Regions from separate parts of the Homo sapiens genome. Here regions 1 and 2 are each linked to region 3. The links come from fine-mapping of genetic effects on gene expression. A gene starts in region 3. Each other region holds a variant in brackets. All regions are shown on one strand. Distances are from middle to middle. Region 1 holds the start of TMEM121B (transmembrane protein 121B). Region 2 overlaps ADA2 (adenosine deaminase 2). Region 3 holds the start of HDHD5 (haloacid dehalogenase like hydrolase domain containing 5).

Region 1 (8,175 bases), 35 kb after region 3:
AAAGTGTTAGGATTACAAGAATGAGCCACCATGCCCAACCATATTTCCTTCTTTGTGTTTTCATTGTACTTGCTTTTCTTTCTCCAACTTTTATTTACTTATTTTGAGACAGGATCTCACTCTGTTGCCTAGGCTGGAAGTGGTGTGATCATGGATCACTGTAGCCTCAAACTGCTGGGCTCAAGAGGTCTTCACCTCAGCCTCCCAAGTAGCTGGGTCTACAGGCATGTACCATCATGCCTGGCTAATATTTTAATTTTTTATAGAGACAACGTCTTGCTATGTTACCCAGGCTGATCTCAAACTACTAGCCTCAAGTGACCCTCCTGCCTTAGCCTCCCAAAGTGCTGGAATGACAAGCCACTGTGCTCAGCCAATTTATTAAGTTGGATGTTTACCTTATTAAATGTTCAATTTTCTCCTTTGTAACACAAACATTTAAAGCTATAAATGTTCTTCTTCTGCTTTGGCTATGTCCCATCCATTTTGACAGGTGGTATTTTCATGTTCATTTAGTTCTAAATATTTTCTAATTTTTGGATGATTCATTTGGAAGTATGTCTTTACACTTCCAAATATGTGGGGGGTGGTTGGTCGTTGTTTTGTTATTTTATTCTAATCTAATTGTTGTGAGGTCAAAGGATTGGTCTGTACATGGTCAGGCTTTGTAAATGTTGCATGTAAAATTGTAAACAATGTGTAGTATCTAGTTTTGGAGGTACAGAGCTCTAAATTCAGCCATTTAGATCAAGCTTGTTAATGATATGGTTCAACTTGTATACATCTGTACCAATGTTTTATCTGTGTGAACTATCAATTACTGAGAGATGTGTTTATATTTCTTACTATCATTAGGTTATTTGCCAGTGTCTCATAAATATTACCCATTTTTATTTATATATTTTAGGGCAATGTTATTGAATACACACACATTCAGAACTATGGTCTTTCTGGAACTTGGTCCTTTTACAGCAGCAAATATGTATATAGCACTTTGTGCTGAGCACTTTCTATCTATTAATTCATTTACTCCTCATAACAACTCTGTGAAGTGGGTACTATTATTTTCCCCATTTTCTAGTGGGAAAATCAAGGAAAGAGAGATTAAGTAATTTGCCTAAGGTCACTCAGCTTCTAAATGGTGGAGTCAGCCAGGCGCGGTGGCTCATGCCTGTAATCCCCGCACTTTGGGAGGCCGAGGTGGGCAGATCACCTGAGGTCAGGAGTTCAAGAACAGCCTGGCCAACATGGTGAAACTCTGTCTCTACTAAAAATACAAAAAAAAATTAGCTGGGTGTGGTGACGGGCGCCTATAATCCCAGCTACTTGGGAGGCTGAGACAGGAGAATTGCTTGAACCTGGGAGGAAGAGGTTGCAGTGAGCCGAGATCGTGCCACTGCACTCGAGCCTGGGTGACAAAGTGAGGCTCCGTCTCCAAAAAATAAAAAAAATAAATAAAAATAAAATAAAACTAAATGGTGGAGTCAGGGTTTGAATCCAGGTAGTCTGGCTATAGAGTATGTGCCCTTCACTACTATGGTGTACTGTCTTCTATCATTACATAGTGAACTTCTTTATCCCTAAGAATATTCTTTGTCATATAGTTTATTTTTTTGGTATTAATATTGCCAAACCCACTTTTTAAAGTTGATATTTGCCTAGTTTAATTATATACATGCATTAAATTATATTTGTGTATTTTTTCTTCAGCCCTTTTTTACTTTGTTTGTCTTTATATTTTAGGGATGTTTCTCTTTTTCTTTTATTTATTTATTTTTGAGACAGGGTCTTGCTCTGTCACCCAGGCTGGGGTGCAATGGCGTGATCATAGCTCACTGCAACCTCCAACTCCTGGGCTCAAGGGATCCTCCCACTTCAGCCTTCTGACTAGCTGGGACTACAGGCATGTATCACTACACCTGGCTAATTAAAAACGATTTTTTGAAGGCCGGGCATGGTGGCTCACGCCTGTAATCCCAGCACTTTGGGAGGCCGAGGTGGGAGGATCACCTGAGGTCAGGAGTTCGAGATCAGCCTGACCAACATGGAGAAACCCCGTCTCTACTAAAATTACAAAATTAGCTGGGTGTGTTGGCGCATGCCTGTAATCCCAGCTACTCGGGAGGCTGAGGCAGAAGAATCGCTTGAACCTGGGAGGAGGAGGTTGTGGTGAGCTGAGATCTCACCATTGCCCTCCAGCCTGGGCAACGAGAGTGAAACTCCATTAAAAAAAACAAAAACAAAAACAAAACCTGCGTCCCTCAAAAAAAAAAATGGTTTTTTTTTTTTTTGGTAGAAATGGCATCTCATTTTGTTGCCCAGTCTGGGCTTGAGGGTTCCTTCTGCCTCAGTCTCCCAAAGTGCTAGGATTACAGGCGTGAACCACCATGCCAGGCCATGGGATATTTCTTATAAAAGCCTATAACTGGACATTTAAAAAAAATCCATCTGATCATGTGTCGTTTAATATGACATCTATTGTGATTACTGATTATTTAGCTTTATTTCTACCATCCACTGCATTCTGACTTCTGTTATTTCTGATGAGAAGTCTGCCATTAATCTAATTGTTGTTTGTTGTAAGTAATTTTTTTTTTACTGTTTGATTTCTCTTAAGATCTTTTTCTTGTCTAGAGTTCTACAATTTTACTTGAAAACATCTCGGAGCATGTTTATTTTTATTCATCCTGTTTAGGATTCATTGCAATTCCTAAATCTGTGGGTTGGAGAAGTTCTTTCACCAATTTTGGAAAATTCTCAGTTCAAATTTCTGTATTGTCCTTCCCTTATTGTTTTATATTCTCCTTCTGGAGCTTCTGTTAGACATATTTTGGATATTCCAATCTATCTCTCATGTCTCTTGTCTCCTAGATATTTTCAGTCTCTAGCTCTCTGTACTACATTCTAGAGAATGTCTTCATATATATTGTTAAATTTACTCACTTCAGTTGTGTCTAATTTGCTGTTGAGCTCATCCATTAATTTTTCAGTGACTATACAGCAGTCTCTCCCATTTGCAGTTTCACTTTTCATGGTTTCAGTTCCATGGTAAAGCACTGTCTGAAAATATTAAGATATTTTGAGATAGAGAGGCACCACATTCACATACACTTTTATTATAATATATTGTTATAATTGTTCTATTATTAGTTACTATTCTTAATCTCTTATGGTACCTAATTTATAAATTAAACTTTATCATAGGTATGTATAGGAAAATAAACATAGTATATGTATATCTTCAGTTTCAGGCATCCACTGGAGGTCTTGGAATGAATCCCTCATGGATAAAGGGAGGACTACTATATACTTGAAATCTAAAGGTTTCTTTTCTTTTCTTTGAGACAGGGTCTTGCTCTGTCACCCAAGCTGGAGTACAGTGGCATGATCATAGCTCATTGTAACTTCGAACTCCTGGCCTCAAATGACCCTCCCACTTTAGCCTCCTGGGTGGCTAGGAGTCACAGGCACATGCCACCACGTCTGGCTACTTAAAAAAAAAATTATTTTTATGGCCAGGTGTGGTGGCTCATGCCTGTAATCCCAGCACTTTGGGAGGCTGAGGCGTGCAGATCACCTGAGGTCGGGAGTTCGGGACCAGCCTGACCAACATGGAGAAACCCTGTCTCTACTAAAAATACAAAAATGAGCCAGGTGTGGTGGCGGGCGCCTGTATTCCCAGCTACTTGGGAGGCTGAGGCATGAGAATCGCTTGAACCCGGGAGGCGGAGGTTGCAGTGAGCCGAGATCGCACCACTGCACTACAGCCTGGGGGATAGAGCAAGATTCTGTCTTGAAAAAAAAAATTATTTTTAGAGATGAGGTCTTGCTATCTTGCCCAGGCTGATCTCAAATGTGCCCGGCCAGGTTTTTTGTTTGTTTGTTTATTTTTGGGCACCTCAGGTAGGACTGAAGTGTTTGTTTGTTTGCTTTCCCCCCAGACGGAGTATTGGTGAAACACCATATTGATCAGGCTGGTCTTGAACTCCTGACCTCACCCTGCCCCACATGGGTGGACCCTGGCCCCAACTGGCACCCTGAATGTCTCACACTGTGAGCCTGAGAAGACCGGCTCCAAGAATCAGTGCTCCTAACCATGGCAGCTTTGTTCCTGGGCACTTACCAAAGTGCAACGCTACTGGGGAGCAGAACTCAAGAGTCCAGGCAGAAAACAGCCATTGGTGGCCCCTGCTATGAGTCGATGTTCCCTGGGAGGCTAAGGCATGGGCTAATGGAATGATGATAACACAGAGACCTTTAACTGAGCATGGACTCTGAGCCAGGGACTGGCTCTGTCATCGAAGAGAGATTACACACATGATCTCTCTTCATACTCACAACAATCCCTTAAGGTAGGAGTGAGGTCCTTTTTTTTTTTTTTTTGAGATGGAGTTTTATTCTTGTTGCCCAGGCAGGAGTGCAATGGCACAATCTTGGCTCACTGCAACCTCTGCCTCCCGGGTTCAAGCGATTCTCCTGCCTCAGCCTCCCGAGTAGCTGGGATTACAGGTGCGTGCCACCACCCCTGGCTAATTTTCGTATTATTAGTAGAGGCGGAGTTTCACTGTGTTGGCCAGGCTGGTCTCAAACTCCTGACCTCAGGTGATCTGCCCGCCTCTGCCTCCCAAATTGCTGGGATTATCACCATGCCCGGCTAGTTTTGTACTTTTAGTGGAGATGGGGTTTCTCCATGTTGGTCAGGCTGGTCTCAAACTCCCGACCTCAGGTGATCCGCCCGCCTCGGCCTCCCAAAGTGCTGGGATTACAGGCGTGAGCCACCGCGCCCGGCTGGGGTGGGGTCCTGTTTACAGATCAACATTCTGAGGTGAAATATTCAGGCTAAGACCACAAAGGTGTTAAGTGGCACAGGTGGGATGGCGGCCCCAGAGCTCCTGCCCTCACCACCATGCCAGCTTTCCAAAAGTGGTGTGTGTGGGGGAGGTGGAGATGGTGCAGGTTCTAAATTGTATATTTACCAGGGATTGGCTGTGCAGACTGACCTCCACGGAACTGGAAAAGGCAGGTTTGGCTGAAACGGACTCTTATTTAAGAGGCAGATTTAGGGGCGAGGCCTGACTAACCCCTGCGGCTCCACTGCATACAGCTCCCTCACACTGCATGGTGTTA[T/C]CACGCTGCAAGCTGTTACCTAGGGGAGATGAGCCCGCAGCAGCAGCTTCAAAGGTCATGAAATCAGGGAGCCCACAGGCCCCACAAGGGTGCAGAGGCCAATAGGGCAGGCAAGCTTTCTGCCTTGTTTTCATGGGGCTGGGAATGGGATGTTTCCATTATTGGTGAACCTCAGATTGTTTTTGAGCCCCAACTGCTCTAGTCATTTCCTTCTCCCTTAAACCCCTAAAGGCAGCACTCTACCTTCTGCCTTCCAGAGTTGCTGCATCGACATCCATCCCCAGCCTTGGATGAGTCCTGGGGTGAGCTGGTGTGCTCTCTCCTGAGACTGTCTACGCAGGGCCACTGACTGCATTCCTTCCTTGGTGTCTCTGTCTACTGTGGTGGGCTGTAACCCTCACCATCATCCCTTTGGAGCCTTTGTTTTCATCCAGGTGCCCACACCTCTAAATGCCCCTTTATTTTACTCTCTGCTAGACACATCTTCCTATTACGTCCCATTCTGCTTTAAAAACCTTTGAGAAGCCCGCTGGGCGGATGCCACTTGCCCAATCTCGTTCCCTCGTCTCTCCTCCCAGGCAGGTGTTTTCAGGGAACTTCTCCATCCGCTGGAATCGGGTCGTCCCTGAGATGGCTCGCGACCCCAGGGCTGGGTACATGGATATTTAGGACTATAGGTCTGGGGCTGCTGCCCGAGCCCTTTTTGCCAACATGGCCTGACTCCTCCACTGGTTTTTAGTGCCTTAGGGAGAGGCGGATGGCCCCATGGGAAGGGCGCTGGACGGAGGGTGGAGGCGAAGCTGCCCACTGCCTGCCTCAGAGCTGAGAAGGCCAGGTGCAAAGCCCGCCCTGTAGCTTGAGCCCATCGCTTGGGGGCACCGAAGCCATCTAGGTACTAACGCCCTGCGGTACAGCCGGTGGGATTCCCAGCGACTTCCTTAGGAGTCCGCGCTCCATGGGAGTCCCCCCGCACCGGGTCGCCTCGCCCTGGCGGCTGCCCGCGCCTCCTCCCGCTTCCTCCAGGCCACAGGGCTCCCGACCCGACTGTGACGCACTGCACCCCCGCCCCTTCTCTTCCCGTTGATCCAGCGCGCCGCGCTTTCTCCTCCTCTGGTCTCGCTGCTTCCTCTCCCCCTCGAATCCAGTCCTGGTTTCCCCGCCGCCAGCCTCCCTCCCTCCCGGCGGGACTCGCTCCCCGCCCCGCCCCGCCCCGCCCCCGCCTCGCCTGTCTTCACCGCGGTCCGCTCGGTTCACCGCCTGCCCCCTCTCCCTGCCGCCCGGCCCGGCTCGCCCAGTCCAGTGGCTCCAGTCCGGATCTCGCCGCCGCCCGGCCCAGGTGCGAGTCCCCACTGCTGGGGAGGCGGCGGGCCCCGGCTCCCCTCGGCCGCCTAGCCCGCCTCGCCCGCCCGGGGTTGGCGGGGAGGGAACAGCTGGGCGGCCCCAGAGCCCCTCGGAGGACAATGCGCCCGGCGCTCGGCCACCCTCGCTCGGTCTCCTCCGCGTCCGGTTCCTTCCCGCCGCCCCCGGCAGCCGCCCGGCTGCAGCCCCTCTTCCTCCGCGGGGGCTCCTTCCGCGGCCGGAGAGGCTCCGGCGACAGCAGCACCAGCACCAGCACCAGCCGCGGGGGAGGCGGCGGCAGACGCGGCGGGGGCGGCGGCTCCCCGAGCAGCAGCACGGGCGCCGAGCGCGAGGACGACGACGAGAGCCTCAGCGTCAGCAAGCCGCTGGTGCCCAACGCCGCGCTCCTGGGGCCGCCGGCTCAGGTGGGCGCCCCCGCCGGCCCCGCGCCTGTCGCCTTCTCCTCCTCAGCGGCCACCTCCTCCTCCACCTCCACGCCCACCTCCTCCTGCAGCATGACAGCCGCGGACTTCGGCGGGGGCGCCGCGGCCGGGGCCGTCGGGGGCCCCGGGAGCCGCTCGGCGGGGGGCGCGGGCGGCACCGGGACCGGCAGCGGCGCCTCCTGCTGCCCGTGTTGCTGCTGCTGCGGCTGCCCAGACCGCCCCGGCCGCAGAGGTCGGCGCCGCGGCTGCGCCCCCAGTCCCAGGTGCCGCTGGGGCTACCAGGCGCTGTCCGTGGTGCTGCTGCTGGCGCAGGGCGGCCTGCTGGACCTGTACCTCATCGCCGTCACCGACCTGTACTGGTGCTCCTGGATCGCCACTGACCTGGTGGTGGTGGTGGGCTGGGCCATCTTCTTCGCCAAGAACAGCCGGGGCCGTCGGGGCGGCGCAGCCAGCGGCGCGCACAACCACCACCTGCACCACCACCACGCCGCGCCGCCCCTGCATCTGCCCGCCCCCTCGGCCGCTACCGCTGGGGCCAAGGCACGCGGAGCCCGCGGGGGCGCCGGCGGCGCGGGGGGCGGCCTGGGGGCGGCCGCGGCAGCGGGCGAGTTCGCCTTCGCCTACCTGGCCTGGCTTATCTACTCCATCGCCTTCACTCCCAAGGTGGTGCTGATCCTGGGCACGTCCATCCTAGACCTCATCGAGCTACGCGCGCCCTTCGGCACCACGGGCTTCCGTCTCACCATGGCGCTGTCGGTGCCCCTGCTCTACAGCTTGGTGCGGGCCATCAGCGAGGCGGGCGCGCCCCCGGGATCGGCAGGACCCCTGCTGCTGCAGCCCCAGCGGCACCGCGCGGCCGGATGCTTCCTGGGCACGTGCTTGGACCTGCTCGACAGCTTCACGCTGGTGGAGCTGATGCTGGAGGGCCGCGTGCCGCTGCCCGCGCACCTGCGCTACCTGCTTATCGCCGTCTACTTCCTCACCCTCGCCTCGCCGGTGCTCTGGCTCTACGAGCTCAACGCCGCGGCCGCAGCGGCTGCATCCTGGGGCCAGGCCTCCGGGCCTGGCAGCTGCAGCCGCCTTCTGCGCCTGCTGGGCGGCTGCCTGGTGGACGTGCCCTTGCTGGCGCTGCGCTGCCTCCTGGTGGTCAGCTACCAGCAGCCCCTCTCCATCTTCATGCTCAAGAACCTCTTCTTCCTCGGCTGCCGGGGCCTGGAGGCCCTGGAGGGCTGCTGGGACCGGGGCAATCGGGCCTCCCCGAGTCGGG
Region 2 (8,175 bases), 30 kb before region 3:
GTGGTATGATCTTGGCTCACTGCAACCTCTGCCTCCCGGGTTCAAGCGATTCTCCTGCCTCAGCCTCCCCAGTAGCTGAGATTAACAGGCATGTGCCACCATGCCCAGCTAATCTTGTATTTTTGGTAGAGATGGGGGTTTCACCATGTTGGCCAGGCTGGTCTTGAACTCCTGACCTCAAGTGATCCCCCTGCCTCGGCCTCCCAAAGTGCTATGATTACAGGTGTGAGCCACCTTTCCCCATTACACACCTCCCTTCCCTTAGCTTCCTTGTCACCTGCCCACTCCCAACTCTCCCCACTCTGCTCTCACTGTGTCCCCCTTGCTGTCCCTGGTGGCAGTGGCCGCCTTGCAGCTGCTGCACCTGGAGTTAGGGAAGCAGTGGGGAGGTGAGCAGGTAGTGGGGAATGACGTCATTCTCAGATCACTCTTTCTAGCTTTCATCCTCTCCCCCCGTGACCTGCTCTTCAACCATTATGCAGATGCTTAATGGGCACCTACCCTCGCGTGTGCCATGTGCTGTTTTAAGTGCAGTGACCCAGCAATGAAGGAGACAGGTGGGCATCAGCATCAGGGTTATCCCAGAGCCAGCTAGGAATTCCCCATGCAGCAGCAGAGACAATGCCCAAGGCCGTAGAGGACCTGAACAAGGGAAGCACAAGTCCAGCCTGGCTGGACTTTTGGGAACAAGGCCACTTGGCCTAATCCAAACACAAATAAAACTGTTTTGTGGGTCCCCTGACCCCATCTACTTTTCCCAGAGCTCGTTGATGGCTGGGAAGGAGTTGACTGGGAAGGAGGTGGCTGGGCAAGGGTGGCTGGGCAGGGGTGGCTGGGCAAGGGTGGCTGGGAAGGGGTGGCTGGGAAGGGGGTGGTTGGGCAGGGGTGGCTGGCCAGGGGTGGCTGGGCAGGGGTGGCTGGGAAGGGGGTGGCGTCTCTCACTGCTCACCTGACGGCTCCTGGTTGTGCTTTCTTCCCAGGTGTATGAGCTCAGTGGAGAGCACCATGACGAAGAGTGGTCAGTGAAGACTTACCAGGAAGTAGCTCAGAAGTTTGTGGAAACTCACCCTGAGTTTATTGGAATCAAAATCATTTATTCGGATCACAGGTGAGAGAGAATATTGCTGAAAAGCTCGGGTTGGGAGGCTGGGATGCAGGCAGAGCTACTAGGCTGGGAGGGGAGGGGTGAGAAGCGGGGCTGGGAGGCCGGGAGAGGCCCAGCACTGGTGCCAAGGAGCTGTGCTGTGCCTGTGTGAGAGCACAGTCCTAGGTAAGTGCGGTGACCCAACAATGAATTGCTGCCTGAAGCCACTTCTAGTTCAGGTCTTCACCCCCAAACTGAAATGAAGAATGTGTGAATTTCCCAGATAATTCTCGGCTGTGACCCCACATTGGCCTGGTGACTCATTTATGAGCATAATGGTTTTGCCTGAATGTTTGGATAATTGGCCCGTTTTTGGTTTCAATTTGCCTCTGGGTTCTGTGTGTGGTTGTGTGTGAGTCCTTGATCACGGAGACACCCTGAGTGGCACTGGCTCAAGTCTGCGTGTGGGGACCTCCAGTAGTACCATGTGCGTGGCCTGGCACGTGGGTGAAAGACCCACTCTTTTTCCCAGGGAAGCACAGAAAGCTTTGCAGCTTAATTGTCCTTCTGACTTTACCAGACAAGACCCCTCCCCTCACTTTAAAGAGCAGCCAGTCTAAGGCTGGGACCTGTCCATGGTCGCAGCTGCAAGGGCAGCAGCCAGTGGGGTCCCTCGGAGTCAGGCACGGGGCGGGCACCGAAGGGATCCGGCAGCGGCTCCCTCTGCTCAGCTCACCCACGAGCCTGGGCTCTGGAGGGCACTGACTCCCCAGGAGCCTCCTCCCATGCCCAGTCTTCCTGAGTCCCCTTCCCTTCCATGGGGCCTGGGGCCTGGAGGAGCTAAGCTCTGGCTTTGTGCCGGTCCCCCTAGGAGGGAGCTTGCAGGATGGGCCCACGTTCTGCTCAGAGGCTCCCTGGTGCCAGGTGCCCCTTCCCAGGGCCAGTGGCAGGAGGGTGTGAGGGCTGAGCTGAGTGCATCAGTGCCCCCAGGTTTGCCTAGGCTCTGGGGAGAGGCCATGGGTGGGGCAGGCCAGGAAGGCTTTATCCCCACAGAGCCGAGGATTGGAGCAGGAGAGCCAGTGGCAGGGCAAAGACCTTGAGCCTGTCGTGGGCTTGCGCCAGACCCTGTGTTTTGGGGCTTTTGTTGTCATGCTGCCTGCCTTGCCCCTGTAGGGTTCTGCAGTACCCAGGATCTTGCTGACTTAATCAGCAAGAGGCCATATGGTTACTGGGTCCAGCCGACCCATCAGGGACTTGGGTGACCTGTGGCCCTTTGCAGGTGTGCAGTGGACAGAGAGCTGCCCCTGAGCTGCATCCATGTCTACACCCCCGACAGAGATGCAGGGAGAGCTGGGAACAAGGCCACCTGGCCTCCTCTAAACGCAGACAAATAAAACTGTTCCCGTGGGTCCTCTGACCCCATCTACTTTTCAGAGACTACAGGTGCCCCCAGAGCCAGCAAGGGTCTTTGATAAGAATGGATTTGGGCTACATATCTCTCAGGGATCACAATGGCCTGGTCAGGGTGGGGTCAGGAGGGCAGGGGTGCCTCAGGTTTGGGAAACGGGACCTGCACACTTGGGGCTGGCCCAGCCCTGCACGGAGGGTGTGCTCTGGGGTTTGTGCTCTGTCGGTGCTGGGCACTGTCTCCTGGCTTCTCTGTCTGTCTCACAGATCCAAAGATGTGGCTGTCATCGCAGAATCCATCCGAATGGCCATGGGGCTCCGAATCAAGTTCCCCACGGTGGTGGCAGGGTTTGACCTGGTAACCCATGCTGTGAACAGAAGGGCTGCCTGTTAAGGGGGCATGCGAGGATGCCTGTCTGGGTGGAGCGGCAACTCCCTGGGAAGGGAGCGCAATGTGCCTGTTGGTACCCTGACATCCCAGGGCAGGCTCAGGCTGCTGACACAGCAGGGCTGCTCAGAGCTCAGCGCTGACCCTCTTCAGAGGCCTACAGGGGACGGCTGTCACTGGAGAAGGGAGAGCAGACAGCCAGTTCTAACAAGCTAACAAGGAAAGTTCCAGAATAAGGATGGCATTCAGGGAGTTTGGACCACAGTTATGGGCTCATTCCCCATGGCCCTGCCTGTGCCCTTTTTTCTATCCCACACTGCTCACCTAGGTGTGGGTCTTAAAACCCTCACCAGCCCCTGTAGCACGCGGGGTGGGGACTGGGGGGTAATGTCTGGAAACAGAGTCCAGGATGGAGCCAGGCCTTTGCAAATCCTCAAGGTAGTGATATTTGTCCCTCCCTCTCCAGCCATCATGCCTGGCCACACCAGTTTTTGAAGCTACACATTCATAGGTGTTGTCATTGTCCCACACCTCCCCACCAAATC[G/A]AAGCACAACCAGGACATTTCTTAGGTGACAGCTCGGCAATCTCATAAAGAATCTAGGCCGGGTGCAGTGGCTCATGCCCTCAGCACTTTGGGAGGGCGAGACAGGTGGATCACCTGAGGTCTGAAGTTCAAGACCAGCCTGGCCAACATGGAGAAACCGCATCTCTACTAAAAACACAAAAATTAGCCAGCCTTGGTGGCCTGCACCTGTAATCCCAGCTACTTGGGAGGCTGAGGCAGAATCACTTGAACTCAGGAGGCAGAGGTTGCAGTGAGCTGAGATTGCACCATTGCACTCCAGCCTGGGCGACAGAGCAAGACTCCATCTCAAAAAAAAAAAAAAAAAAGAATCTAGATTAGTCCAGGGCAGTGGCTCACTCCTGTAATCCCAGCACCTTGGGGGGCCAAGGTGGGAGGGTCACCTGAGTCCAGGAGTTCTAGACCAGCCTGAGCAAATCGGTGAGACCCCGTCTTTACAAAATATATATATATATATATTTTTTGCTCTTGGCCAGGCTGTAGTGCATTGGTGTGATCTCAGCTCACTGCAAGTTCTGCCTCCTGGGTTCATGCCATTCTCCTGCCTCAGCCTCCCAAGTAGCTGGGACTACAGGCACCCGCTACCACACCTGGATAATTTTTTGTATTTTTAGTAGAGATGGGGTTTCACTGTGTTAGCCAGGATGGTCTCGATCTCCTGACTTCGTGATCTGCCTGCCTCGGCCTCCCAAAGTGCTGGGATTACAGGTGTGAGCCACCACGCCTGGCCTGCTCCTGGTCATTCTTAAAAGGCTGTGTGACAAAGGTCCCGGCAGTGGTGGCAGGGTACAAGGAAGGGTGTGCACAGGCTCCAGGGCGCGCCATCAGCAAGTGAGGCATGCGCCCTGCAGACACCTCCCTGTCCCTCTCTGTCCTGCAGGTGGGGCATGAGGACACTGGCCACTCCTTGCATGACTACAAGGAAGCTCTGATGATCCCCGCCAAGGATGGCGTTAAGCTGCCTTACTTCTTCCACGCCGGAGAAACAGGTGAGCCTGCGGGATGCGAGCAGAGGCAGCGGAGGTGGTCAATGGGAGAGCTCCTGGCCACAGGCCCATGCCTCAGGGTTAGAGCCTACAGGCGTTTCCAGAGCCCTTTCCTGTGCTCTATCTCACTTAATCCTGACAACAGCCCCATGGAGAAGGAATAACAAGGATAATAGAATCAGCCACTTTACATGTATTATTTCTAGTTTCTCTTTCTTCTTTCCTTCCTGTTTTCTTTTCTTCTTCTTCTTTTTTTTTCTTTTTTTTACGGAGTCTCCCTCTGTCGCCCAGCTCACTGCAACCTCGGCTTCCCAGGTTCAAGAGAGTCTCCTGCCTCAGCCTTCCAAGTAGCTGGTACTACAGGCACCTGCCACCACGCCTGGCTAATTTTTTGTATTTTTAGTAGAGACGGGGTTTCACCGTGTTAGCCAGGATGGTCTTGATCTCCTGACCTCATGATCTGCCCTCCTCGGCCTCCCAAAGTGCTGGAATTACAAGGGTGAGCCACTGCGCCTGGCCTTTTCTAATTGATTTCTGATTGTTTCCCCAGTTTTTAATCTCCATTTGATAGATGAAGAGCCCAAGGCTCCAAACACAGTGGTCCAGGGTTAAAGAGCTGGTGCGCAGTGGAGTCTGAATTTGAATCCTTCTTCTTCTTCTTTTTTTTTTTTTTTTTAATTTTTCGTGGTAGGGGCATAATCCTGCAAACTCACATCATCCTACTTTGGCTATAAAAATTCGTTTTAGGCTGGGCACAGGCACAGTGGCTCATGCCTGTAATCCTAGCACTTTGGAGGCTGATGTGGGTGGATCTCTTTAAACCCAGGAGTTTGAGGCCAGCCAGGGCAACATGGCAAAACTTTGTCTCTACAAAAAAATACAAAAATTAGCCAGGCATGATGGTACACACCTGTGGTCCCACCTACTTAGAGGCTGAGGTGGGAGGATTGCCTGAGCCCAGGCTCACTGAACTCCAGCCTGGGTGACAGAGCTAGACCCTGTCTCAAAAAAAAAAGTGTTTTAGCCAGGTACAGTGGCTCACATCTGTAATTCTAGCACTTAGGGAGGCAGAGGCAGGAGGATCACTTGAGCCCAGGAGTTTGAGACCAGTCTGGGCAACATAGTAAGATTCCATTCTACACAAAAAGGAAAACAAATTTTTTTTTTTTTTTTTTGAGATGGAGTCTCGCTCTGTGGCCCAGGCTGGAGTGCAGTGGTATGATCTCGGCTCACTTGCAAGCTCGGCTTCCTGGGTTCATGCCATTCTCCTGCCTCAGCCTCCCAAGTAGCTGGGACTACAGGTGCCCGCCACCACGCCCGGCTAATTTTTTGTATTTTTAGTAGAGACGAGGTTTCACTGTGTTAGCCAGGATGGTCTCGATCGCCTGACCTTGTGATCCACCCGTCTAGGCCTCCCAAAGTGCTGGGATTACAGGTGTGAGCCACTGCACCTGGTCAATTTTTTTGTTTTTTGAGATGGAGTCTCACTCTGTCACCCAGGCTGGAGTGCAGTGGTGCGATCTTGGCTCACTGCAACCTCTGCCTCCCGGGTTCAAGTGATTCTTCTGCCTCAGCCTCTGGAGAAGCTGGGATTACGGGCATGCACCACCATGCCTAGCTAATTTTTGTATTTTTAGTAGAGATGGGGTTTCACCATGTTGGTTAGGCTGGTCTTGAACTCCTGACCTCAAGTGATCCACCCACCTCAGCCTCCCAAAATGCTGGGATTACAGGCTTGAGCCACGGAAAAAAATTCTTTTGAGACAGAGTCTTACTGTATCGCCCAGGCTGGAGTGCAGTGGTGCGATCTCGGCTCACTGCAACCTCTGGCTGCCAGGTTCAAGTGATTCTCGTGCCTCAGCCTCCCGAGTAGCTGGGATTACAGGCGCCCACCAACACACCCGGCTAATTTTTGTATTTTTAATAGGGATAGGGTTTCACCATGTTGGCCCAGGCTGGTCTTGAACTCCCAACCTCAAACAATCCACCCGCCTTGGCCTCCCAAAGTGCTGGGATTACCCGGCCTCATGTGATATTTTGATGCCTGTATATAATGTGTATGAATTGGAACACTTTCTGACGCTCTCCATCCTCCGAGTGAATTGTGCTTGAGAGGTTAACTGATCTGCCTAAAGCCACACAGCTGGAAATTGGCAGAAGAGGGAGGAGAACCAGGTCTGCTCCTTGTCTTTAGGATGTTCTGTCCCGCATTATCGTAGGAGAGGAAACCCTGCCCTGCCCCATGCAGGCCCTGGCTGCTGTTCCTCCTGAAACGCCATCAGCCCAGCCACATCTTTCTTTCCCAGAACTCCATCCTTGGGCTCGCTCAGTCATCTCAGCCCCTCCCGTATTCCAGTCCTTAAAATGTGTAAACCCTAACTAAGAAAGATCACGGCTGCAATTTCAGATCCAAAGGAAGATTTGGGAGGAGGCTGTTCACATGGAGGCCGGGACCAGGAGGGCAGCTCTCTTCAGCATCCCACCTGTCACCCTCGGAAGACCAAAGAGGGGTGGAGAGAGTGGTGGGCAATTTCATTTCCCACCCAGGCTTAAGCTCTGCTCTATCACACCTTCTCTCAGAGAAAGGGACCTTGTGCATTAATCTCTTTTTCCTGACATTTCGAGTCAATTTAGATCCAATTTAGATCAAAGTCTGCTCTAGGAGAGCAGAAGAATTGTTTGAGGGGGAGGGGGTTGGGCGAGGGTGTTGTTAACCTTGAAGAGCTTGTGGTCTGGTTGGGGAAAATCATACTTATGTGTGTGAAATAATTCTGGCCCTACAAAACATTGCAGCTCAGGACCTAACAGGTTCCAAGATGTATGGTCCTTGGAGATGATTTTGCCAGGACTTGGGTATCTAATACCTAAAAGTAATGTCCTTATTTTTATTTTTTTATTTTATTTTATTTTATTTTATTTTATTTTTTGAGACGGAGTCTCGCTCTGTCCCCAGGCTGGAGTGCAGTGGCACGATCTCAACTCACTGCAAGCTCCGCCTCCCAGGTTCACGCCATTCTCCTGCCTCAGCCTCCCGAGTAGCTGGGACTACTCGGGCGCCTGCCACCACGCCCGGCTAATATTTTTTGTATTTTTAGTAGAGACGGGGTTTCACCATGTTGGTCATGCTGGTCCGGAACTCCTAACCTCGTGATCCGCCCACCTCGGCCTCCCAAAGTGGTGGGATTACAGGTGTGAGCCACCACACCCGGCCAATATCCTTATTTTTAAAAAGAAAAAGAAATCTTTAAAAACCAGTGAAAATCCACCAAAACACATGTGCTACATAGCAATGGAAATTCTTGAGTTTTATTTCTATCAGGAAAGTGGAGTTTTCATATATATATATATATATATATATTTTGACATGGGCACTCTGTCACCCAGGCTAGAGTGCGGTGGTGTGATGACAGCTCACTACAGCCTCCACCTCTGTCACCCAGGCTAGAGTGTGGTGGCGTGATCACAGCTCACTACAGCCTCCACCTCCTGGGTTCAGGTTATCCTTCCACCTCAGCCTCCTAAGTAGCTGGGACTGCAGCCACATGCCACCATGCCTGGCTAATTTTTGTATTTTTTGTAGAGACAGGGTGTCTCTATGTTGCCCATGGCTGGCCTTGAACTCCTGGGCTCAAGCAATCCTCCTGCCTCAGCCTCCCAAAGTGCTGCGATTACAGGTGTGAGCCACCGCACCCAGCCAGATGTTCATATTTTATATGTGAATCCATT
Region 3 (8,175 bases):
TAATGTGATTGTGTCGTAACATGACTGGGAATCAAAATAAAGATGCGTTAAGCAACAGCAGGGCAGGGGTTCTGCTTACAATGTCAGCCACAGAGCCTGAGTTTGTTAGTGTTTATTCAGCACTGCCCAAAGGATAGAGCTAGGGGTGGCAGAATATGTGCTCCGTGCATCCGGCAGGATGGGAAGACACCTAGAATAGCACAGGGTAGACGTGAGTGCCCTTGTTCCTGGAAGTGCAAACTCTTTAACATGGCAAGCCTTAGCTGTGAGATTTCTCCTTAGAGGATGGTTCTTACCTTTTACTGGCTTATGAACCCAGAGAATCTAATAAAGACTTATCACGTACACACACAGTCTTTGATTCAATAATCATGTTGGAATCTCCCACAGTGCACCTTCTGTCATCTTTCCCCGAAACAAACAGACAAACAAACCAAACCAACTAAAACAACAGCAAAACCCAGCCCATTTCTGGTTCCTGCTTTGGATGGGCTGGAATGGTCTTATGGCATTCAGTCCACAATGGAGGAAGAATGAAAGCAAGGCAGGCCCATGTGGGGAACACTGCTGACTTAGGCTGAAACTCCTGAAGATTAATAACACTAAGTATGACACAGTCCTGATCACCAAGAATATTAGTTATCTTTTGCTGTATAACGAATTATCCCAAAGTGTAATGACTTAAAACAACAAACCTTCAGTATCTCCCTGTTTCTGAGGGTTAGGAATTCAGGAGTGACTTAGCTGGGTGGTTTTGCCTCAGGGTGGTTCATGAGGTTTTGGTCAAGGGTTCCGCCAGGAATGGAAGCTCCACCTCCAAGAAGATTCTCTCTCCTGACTACTGGTAGGATGCCTCAGATCCTCACCATGTGGGCCTTTCTATAGGGCTGCTTGAATGGCCTCACCACATGACAACTCTACTATGCGTCTAGCTTTCCTAGAATGAGTTATCTAAATGAGGGCAAGGTGGAAGTCACAGTATCTTTTATGACCTAGCCTTGGAAATCAACTACACTCACTTCTGTCCCATGTTATTTATTAAAAAGTCAGTGAAGTCCAGCCCACACTCAATGGGAGGGGAATTAGAATTAGACTCCAGGTTTTTTTTTTTTCTTTTTTTTTTTTTGAGACAGAGTCTCACTCTGTTGCTCAGGCTGTAGTGGCACAATCTTGGCTCACTGCAACCTCTGCCTCCTGAGCTCAAGCGATCCTCCCACCTTAGCCTCCTAGAATAGCTGGGACTACAGGTGTGTGTCACTATGCCTGGCTAATTTTTTTTTTATATATATATTTTGTGGAGACAAGGTTTTGTCACGTTGCCCAGGCTGGTCTGGCATTCCTGGACTCAAGTGATCCACCTGCCTCGGCTTCCCAAGTGTTGGGATTACAGGCATGAACCACCATACCCACCCAACTCCAGCTTTTTTTTTTTTTGGAGACATAGTTCCGCTCTGTCGCTCAGGCTGGAGTGCAGTGGCTCAATCTCAGCTCAGCTCTCTGCAACCTCTGCTTCCCAGGTTCAAGTGATTCTCCTGCCTCAGCCTCCCAAGTAGCTGGGATTACAGGCACACACCACCATGCCTGGCTAATTTTTGTATTTTTAGTAGAGACAGAGTTTCACCATGTTGGCCAGGCTGGTCACGAACTCCTGACCTCAGATGATCCACCTACCTCGGCCTCCCAAAGTGCTGGGATTACAGGCATGAGCCACTGTGACCGGCCTTTTTTTCTTCTTTCTTTTTTTTTTTTTTTTGAGATAGAGTCTCACTCTGTTGCCCAGGCTCGAGTACAGTGGCACGCTCTCAGCTCACTGCAACCTCCACCTCCCAGGTTCAAGCGATTCTCCTGCCTCAGCTTCCCAAGTAGCTGGGATTACAGGTGCATGACGAGCTAATTTTTGTATTTTTAGTAGAGACGGGTTTCGCCATGTTGGCCAGGCTGGTCTTGAACTCCTGATCTCAGATGATCCGCCTGACTTGGCCTCCCAAAGTGCTGGGATTACAGGTGTGAGCCACCGCGCCTGGCTATGCTTTTGAGGAGCCGATTGTCAAAAAAAACTGTGGGCATGTTTAAAAGCCATCATACCAAGAAATTTCTAATGACTAAATCAGTTTCTAGGTAGTTTAATAGAAGGAAGGGATTAGGAACATTGCAATCCTAGAGAGCTATGTCCCCTGGCAGGGTTTAAGTGTCGGGCTATTGTGAGTTTGACTGACTTGAATTAGTCTTCCAAATTCTGATTAGCTGTAGTTGAACTGAATTAAGATCTTGCCCTTCAAAGCTGAGGACCAAAGGACACCGCTAACTACTTCTTCATTTTATTATTATTATTATTATTTTTTTTTTTTTCAAGACGGAGTCTCACTCCGTCACCCAGGCTGGAGTGCATTGGCGCAATCTCGGCTCACTGCAACTTCTGCTGCCTGGGTTCAAGCGATTCTCCTGCCTCAGCCTCCCGAGTAGCTGGGACTTGAGGCGCCTGCCACCGCGCCTGGCTAATTTTTGCAGTTTTCAGCAGAGACGGGGTTTCACCATCTTGGCTAGGTGGTCTTGAACCCCTGACCTCCTGATCCACTCGCCTCAGTCTCCCAAAGTGCTGGGATTACAGGTGTGAGCCACCGCACCCGGCCCTATTTTATTATTTTTAAAATAGAGAAGGGGTCTCCCTATGTTGCCCAGGCTGGTCTGGAACTCCTGGACTCAAGTTTTCCTCCCACCTTGACCTTCCAAAGTTCTGGGATTACAGGGGTGAGCCACCGCACCCTGGCCTGCTAATGTGTGAGCTAGTGCAGTCTCTGTCCATATCCTCGACTCCCTCTCTGCTAGTGCTAAGTACATTGTAGGGTCCCGCGTTTTTAGCATAGCTATACCTATGAATGGGCCAAAGAATCTGAGGGCATCCTACACATTTCAAACGGTGGGAATGGAGACCTCTTTCCTCCAGCAGAATCTCCCCTCATGACCGGGGGACTACCAGATCCAGCTCTGCTAAGGGCCTCCACGGACGGAGTCGGCTACCTCTCCACTTTCAGTGACCGAAATCCATTCTTTGTTCATTCACCCTTGTGTCTACTCCGGGAAACGCGCAGCGGACACAGTCGTGTTCCCTAAGTGTTTGCTGACTTAGTCATCTGGCCCTCTCTGGAGTAGTCATTTTGTACCTTGTACTACATTCGTGCCTCTACCTCTCCGCAGTGCGCGCGGGGGCGGACTCACGTGCGCAGTCTCCCTATGCGCTGGGAGGGCGTCAGCAGGTTTACAGAAACAATGAAAGACTTAACAATTGGCGCGCGACGAGCGTCCCTTGACTGGCAGGGGCCCAGAGGACCTGAACATCACTAAGGGTCTGCCCCAGCGGCCCGGCCCTGAAGTCAAGGTTGAGACCCCCGGCCCAGACAGTCCGCGAAGCTGAGGGAGGCCGGCCTGGGGCCTGCCGCGCAATGTTACCGGGATCCGCAGGCACAGGGCGATAGTACGGACGCCGCCGCCCAGGCCGTGCCCATTGTGCGCCGCGGCCAGCTCACCGCGATCTCGGTCTAGGAGGCGGCGGGACCCCGCACTTCTTCCTTGCAACGGAGCCCCTTTGGCCTGCGGGTCGAGTTCCATAGGCGCCCGACGGGCTCCGCGCGCTTACAGGACTACAACTCCCGTGATGCCGCGCGCGCCGACCGCTGATTGGCTGTGCAGCGGACGGACTCGCGGGGGGGGGGGGCCGCACGCCGTGCACGTGCGCACGGCGACGGCCGGATGGCTGCGTGGGGCTGTGTGGCTGCGCTCGGCGCGGCGCGTGGGCTTTGCTGGCGGGCGGCGCGCGCGGCTGCGGGGCTCCAGGGCCGCCCCGCCCGCAGGTGCTATGCTGTGGGCCCCGCTCAGGTGAGGACGTCCGGGTTCTGGCCGAGCCACTCGCCACTCAGGGCCGGAGGCGGGGCGGGGAGCCGCGGGGAAGGAGGGGCGGCCGGGCTGGTATCCCAGCCTCCTGGGAACTGCCTGGACCGTCGTCGCGCCCGAGTGCATCGCGTTCTTGCTGGAGGGCGGATGCGCCCTGCCTTCCTCTGACTCGCTGGCGGCCTCGGAAACGCTACTCCCGCGGGAGAGCGCTCGTGGGACGGCCTGGGCCAGGCTGCTTGTCAGCCCCTGCGCTTCCCGGCAGTTTCCGCGTCCCTGTTTTCCCTGCGCGTCTTCTGATTTCCACCATGAGGACGTTTGGGTCGTGATTTTCATCTGCATGTGGAGGAAACTGGGCCGCGCGCCGGGAGCCGCGCCTGCGGGTGCTCCGCCCCCAAGTGCCTGTGGGTTTGGTGCGGGCCTTGGGTTCAGTTCAGCTCGCTGTGACCTCGACTGAGCGCTGGAGGCTCCGCGGGCGGGAGCAGGAGGGCTGGAGCCGGCGCCTGCTGTGTGCCCGGCGCGGTAGTGATGTGTGAGCCTCCCCGCAACTTCTGAGAAGGTGTGACCTTGTGTGGTCAGGAAGCCGAAGCTTGACGAGTTTTCAAGTACGTTTTCTCAGGTCCTGCAGCTGGGAGACGGCACAGGACACTAAACCAGGTTGGTCAGATCCACGGCTCTCACGCTCCCTTGGGCCGTTTTGCCTTTTCTGGAAAAAGGAATCACTTTGTCTTCTAAACGCACAAGTAATATTTTACATTAACATACGGATTTCACAGTAATCCTTGCATTTTTTTTTTTTAGACGGCATCTCTGTCACCAGGTTGGAGTGCAGTGGCGCAATCTCTGCTCACTGCAACCTCCGCCTCCCGGGTTCAAGCGATTCTTCTGTCTCAGCCTCCCGAGTAGCTGGGATTACAGGCACCCGCCACCACATCCGGCTAATTTTTGTATTTTTAGTAGAGACAGGGTTTCACCATGTTGGCCAGGCTGGTCTCGAACTTTTGACCTCAGATGATCCTCACATCTTGGCCTCCCAGAGTGGTGAGATTACAGGCATGAGCCAGTGCACCCGGCCAAATTACTTGCATGAAAAAAACACATAGTGCTTACTTTGTGCCAGGCACTATTCTAAGTACTTCACAGTTATTCGTATAATCTTTATAACAACTCCGAGGAAAGTACTATTATTAGTCTTCCCATTTTATAGATGGAGCAGAGGCACAGAGAGGTTAAGCAGCTTACCCAAGGGCACACAGCTGGTAAGTGGCAGAATCTGGAACTCAGGTAGTCTGGTGCCAGAGTCTAAGCTCTTAACAGCTGTATTATTTTTATGATTTTTAAATATGGAGCAGCTAAGGTTCAAAGCAGCTGAGTGACTTGGCCAGTGTCACATAGCTAGACGTGACCAAGGTGGAAGTTTGAAATTAGAATATGTTGATAAAAGGACTTACAAACTGTCAGGATATAAATATAAGGAAATATCGCCCTTATTTATAACTGTTGTATTGGCTCTAGCATCTCTGCAGAGTCCCGAAATGTCTCCAAGTGACTCTTCCGGTAGAGCAGAAAAAGAAGAATGCAGGATGACAGAGTTTGAGCACGAGCTTTAGAATTGAATCCTGTGCAGTCTGTTAGCGGCTTCACTTAAGGCAATTTACATAGCTTTCCAAGCTCAGTTTCCCCATCTATGTAATGGATCTATTACTTGTAATCCCAGCTACTCGGGAGGCTGAGGCAGGAGAAGCCCTTGAACCTGGGAGGGAGGTTGCGGTGAGCGGAGATCGGGCCATTGCACTCCAGCCCGGGCAACAGATCCTGACTCTTATCAAAAAAAAAAAAAAAGAAAATTAACCTTAGTTTAACTTTCTTGCTTTACCAAGTTTTTAATTTTTAAAATTTTTTACTCTTTTGTAATAGCACTTAGTTTAAAACACAACACATTGTACAGCTGTACTAAATATATCTTCATTTATATCATTGTTCCATAGCTTTTTTCTTTTGTGTGTGTGTGTGTGTGTGTGTGTGTGTATGTGTGTGAGACGGTGTCTAGCTCTGTTGCCCGGGCTGGAGTGCAGTGGCGCCATCTCGGTCCACTGCAACCTCTGCCTCCCAGGTTCAAGTGATTCGCCTGCCTCAGCCTCCCAAGTACGTGGGATTACAGGCGCCTGCCACCACGCCCAGCTAATTTTTGTATTTTTAGTAGAGACGGGGTTTCACTGTGTTGGCCAGGCTGGTCTCGAACTCCTGACCTCATGATCCGCCTGCCTTGGTTTCCCAAAGTATTGGGATTAGAAGCATGAGCCACCGTGCCCAGCCAGCTTTTTTTTTTTTTTTGAGACGGAGTCTCGCTCGCTCTGTTGCCCAGGCTGGAGTGGAGTGGCGTGGTCTCGGCTCACTGCAAGCTCTGCCTCCTGGGTTCACATCATTCTCCTGCCTCAGCCTCCGGAGTAACTGGGAGTATAGGTGCCTGCCACCACGCCTGGCTAATTTTTTGGATTTTTAGTAGAGATGGGGTTTCACTGTGTTAGCCAAGATGGTCTCGATCTCCTAACCTCGTGATCTGCCCTCCTTGGCCTTGCAACATGCTGGGATTACAGGCAGCTTTTTTCTATTAAAAAAAATTACAGGTGTGCACCACCACGCCCGGCTAATTTTTTGTATCTTTGGTAGAGATGGGGTTTCACCATGTTGGCCAGACTGGTCTCGAACTCCTGACCTCATGATACGCCCGCCTTGGCCTCCCAGAGTGCTGGGATTACAGGCGTGAGCCACAGTGCCCTACCTTAAAAAAAATTTTTTTTTTTAACTTTTGTTAAAAATGAAGACACAAACACCTACTAGCCCAGGCCTACATAAGGTCGGGTCAGGTAATTGATATCACTGTCTTCTGCCTTCACACCATGTCCCATTAGAAGGTCTTTAGGGGGCAGTCATATGCATGGAACTGTCATCTGCGATAACAGTGCTTTCTTCTGGATATCTTCTGAAGGACCTCTCTGAGGCTCTTGAGGTGTCACTCTTATCAGAAATATGTCCATTGTGGTTTGCTTGGTTTCTTTTTTTTTGTCATAGGTTTGCTTGTAAACAGATAATGTACCATAAACATTCTTCTCTAGTAATGAAAACCTTTTGGCGTTGGAGTTCATGTTTCAGACTTTTTAAGGAACTTGAGGTCTGTAAAAGCTGCTGAACCCTTCACTGTGAATTTTCTTGGATGTTCTTTTCTTTCTGTGGCTACCTTTTCTCTTGCCTCTTCTTCAGCTATGAGTTCCTGTTCCATTATAATCTTAAGGGACCATTGTATATGCAGTGTGTCATTGACTGAAACATCGTTATGGTGCGTGACTGTATTACCATCTTGCATTAGTGTGGTACATTTGTTATAATTGATGTACACCTTCACTTTTTATGGTACTGGGTGCCTGGTTCTCTGTGTACATCCTGAAGGTTGGGGAGGGGTTGGAGTGATGGGTGAGGGAGCCTTATGGATATTGCTCAATTTTCCTGAAAACTTTGCTGTTCTAAGTAGCAGGGGCTATGGATTCTTATTTTTAAGAAAGCAGATCTTGGGCCGGGCGCGGTGGGTCATGCCTGTAATCCCAGCACTTTGGGAGGCCGCGACGGGCGGATCACGAGGTCAGGAGTTTGAGACCAGCCTGGCCAATATGGTGAAACCCCGTCTCTACTAAAAATATAAAAAATAAGCCAGGTGTGTTGGCGCGCGTCTGTAGTCCCAGCTACTTGGGAGGCTGAGGCAGGAGAATCACTTGAACCCAGGAGGCAGAGGTTGTAGTGAGTCGAGATTGCACCACTGCACTCCAGCCTGGGTGACAGTGAGACTCCGTCTCAAAAAAAACCAACCAAACAAAAAAAAAAAAAAAAGGAAAGCAAATCTTGTGACTGTTTAGGCAATGACCGTTAAAACTATGTATGGTAAATTTTGCAACCATTGTACAAATGAGCTGTTTTTTAACTATGTAAGTTTTCAAAAATTCAAAAATGGGGAATAATATGAACCCCTGTGCCCATCTCCCAGATTGAGCAATGATTAACATTTTTCAACACCTGCTTTGCTTATCTCCCTCCTCCTTTTTTTGTGGCTCTAAGATTTTAAAGTAAATCTCTGATTTCTTGTCATTTCAAACCTAAATTCTTCTGTGTGTACCTCTAAGAAAAATAAGGACATTCTGGCTGGGTGCCATGGCTCACACCTGTAATCTGAGCACTTTGGGAGTTGGAAGGATTACTTGAGCCCAGGAGTTCCAGACCAGCCTGGGCAACATAGGGAGA

The links.
Region 1: its variant is fine-mapped to the expression of HDHD5 in whole blood (TOPMed, PIP above 0.99).
Region 2: its variant is fine-mapped to the expression of HDHD5 in whole blood (TOPMed, PIP 0.93).

Annotation. Positions count from the first base shown.
Region 1 is chr22:17,119,540-17,127,714 of GRCh38, reverse strand. It overlaps TMEM121B (transmembrane protein 121B), which reads left to right and starts at 6,355. Exons shown (of 1, transcript NM_031890.4): 1 at 6,355-8,175. The coding sequence starts at 6,588. LINC01664 (long intergenic non-protein coding RNA 1664) reads right to left here and starts at 6,120. Exons shown (of 4, transcript NR_103793.1): 1 at 5,676-6,120; 2 at 2,944-3,060. RefSeq lists an enhancer at 5,397-5,928 and a silencer at 6,514-6,643. The variant T/C (reference allele first, on the strand shown) is at 5,128.
Region 2 is chr22:17,184,616-17,192,790 of GRCh38, reverse strand. ADA2 (adenosine deaminase 2) reads left to right here. Exons shown (of 10, transcript NM_001282225.2): 5 at 981-1,108; 6 at 2,759-2,849; 7 at 4,344-4,452. Among named protein-coding and RNA genes, the nearest start is that of HDHD5-AS1, 29 kb to the right of the region's middle. RefSeq lists enhancers at 2,456-2,956, 3,845-4,344, 4,345-4,846. The variant G/A (reference allele first, on the strand shown) is at 3,425.
Region 3 is chr22:17,154,824-17,162,998 of GRCh38, reverse strand. HDHD5 (haloacid dehalogenase like hydrolase domain containing 5) reads left to right here and starts at 3,722. Exons shown (of 8, transcript NM_033070.3): 1 at 3,722-3,873. The coding sequence starts at 3,748. It overlaps HDHD5-AS1 (HDHD5 antisense RNA 1), which reads right to left and starts at 3,610. Exons shown (of 2, transcript NR_024483.1): 1 at 3,162-3,610. RefSeq lists a silencer at 3,711-4,040.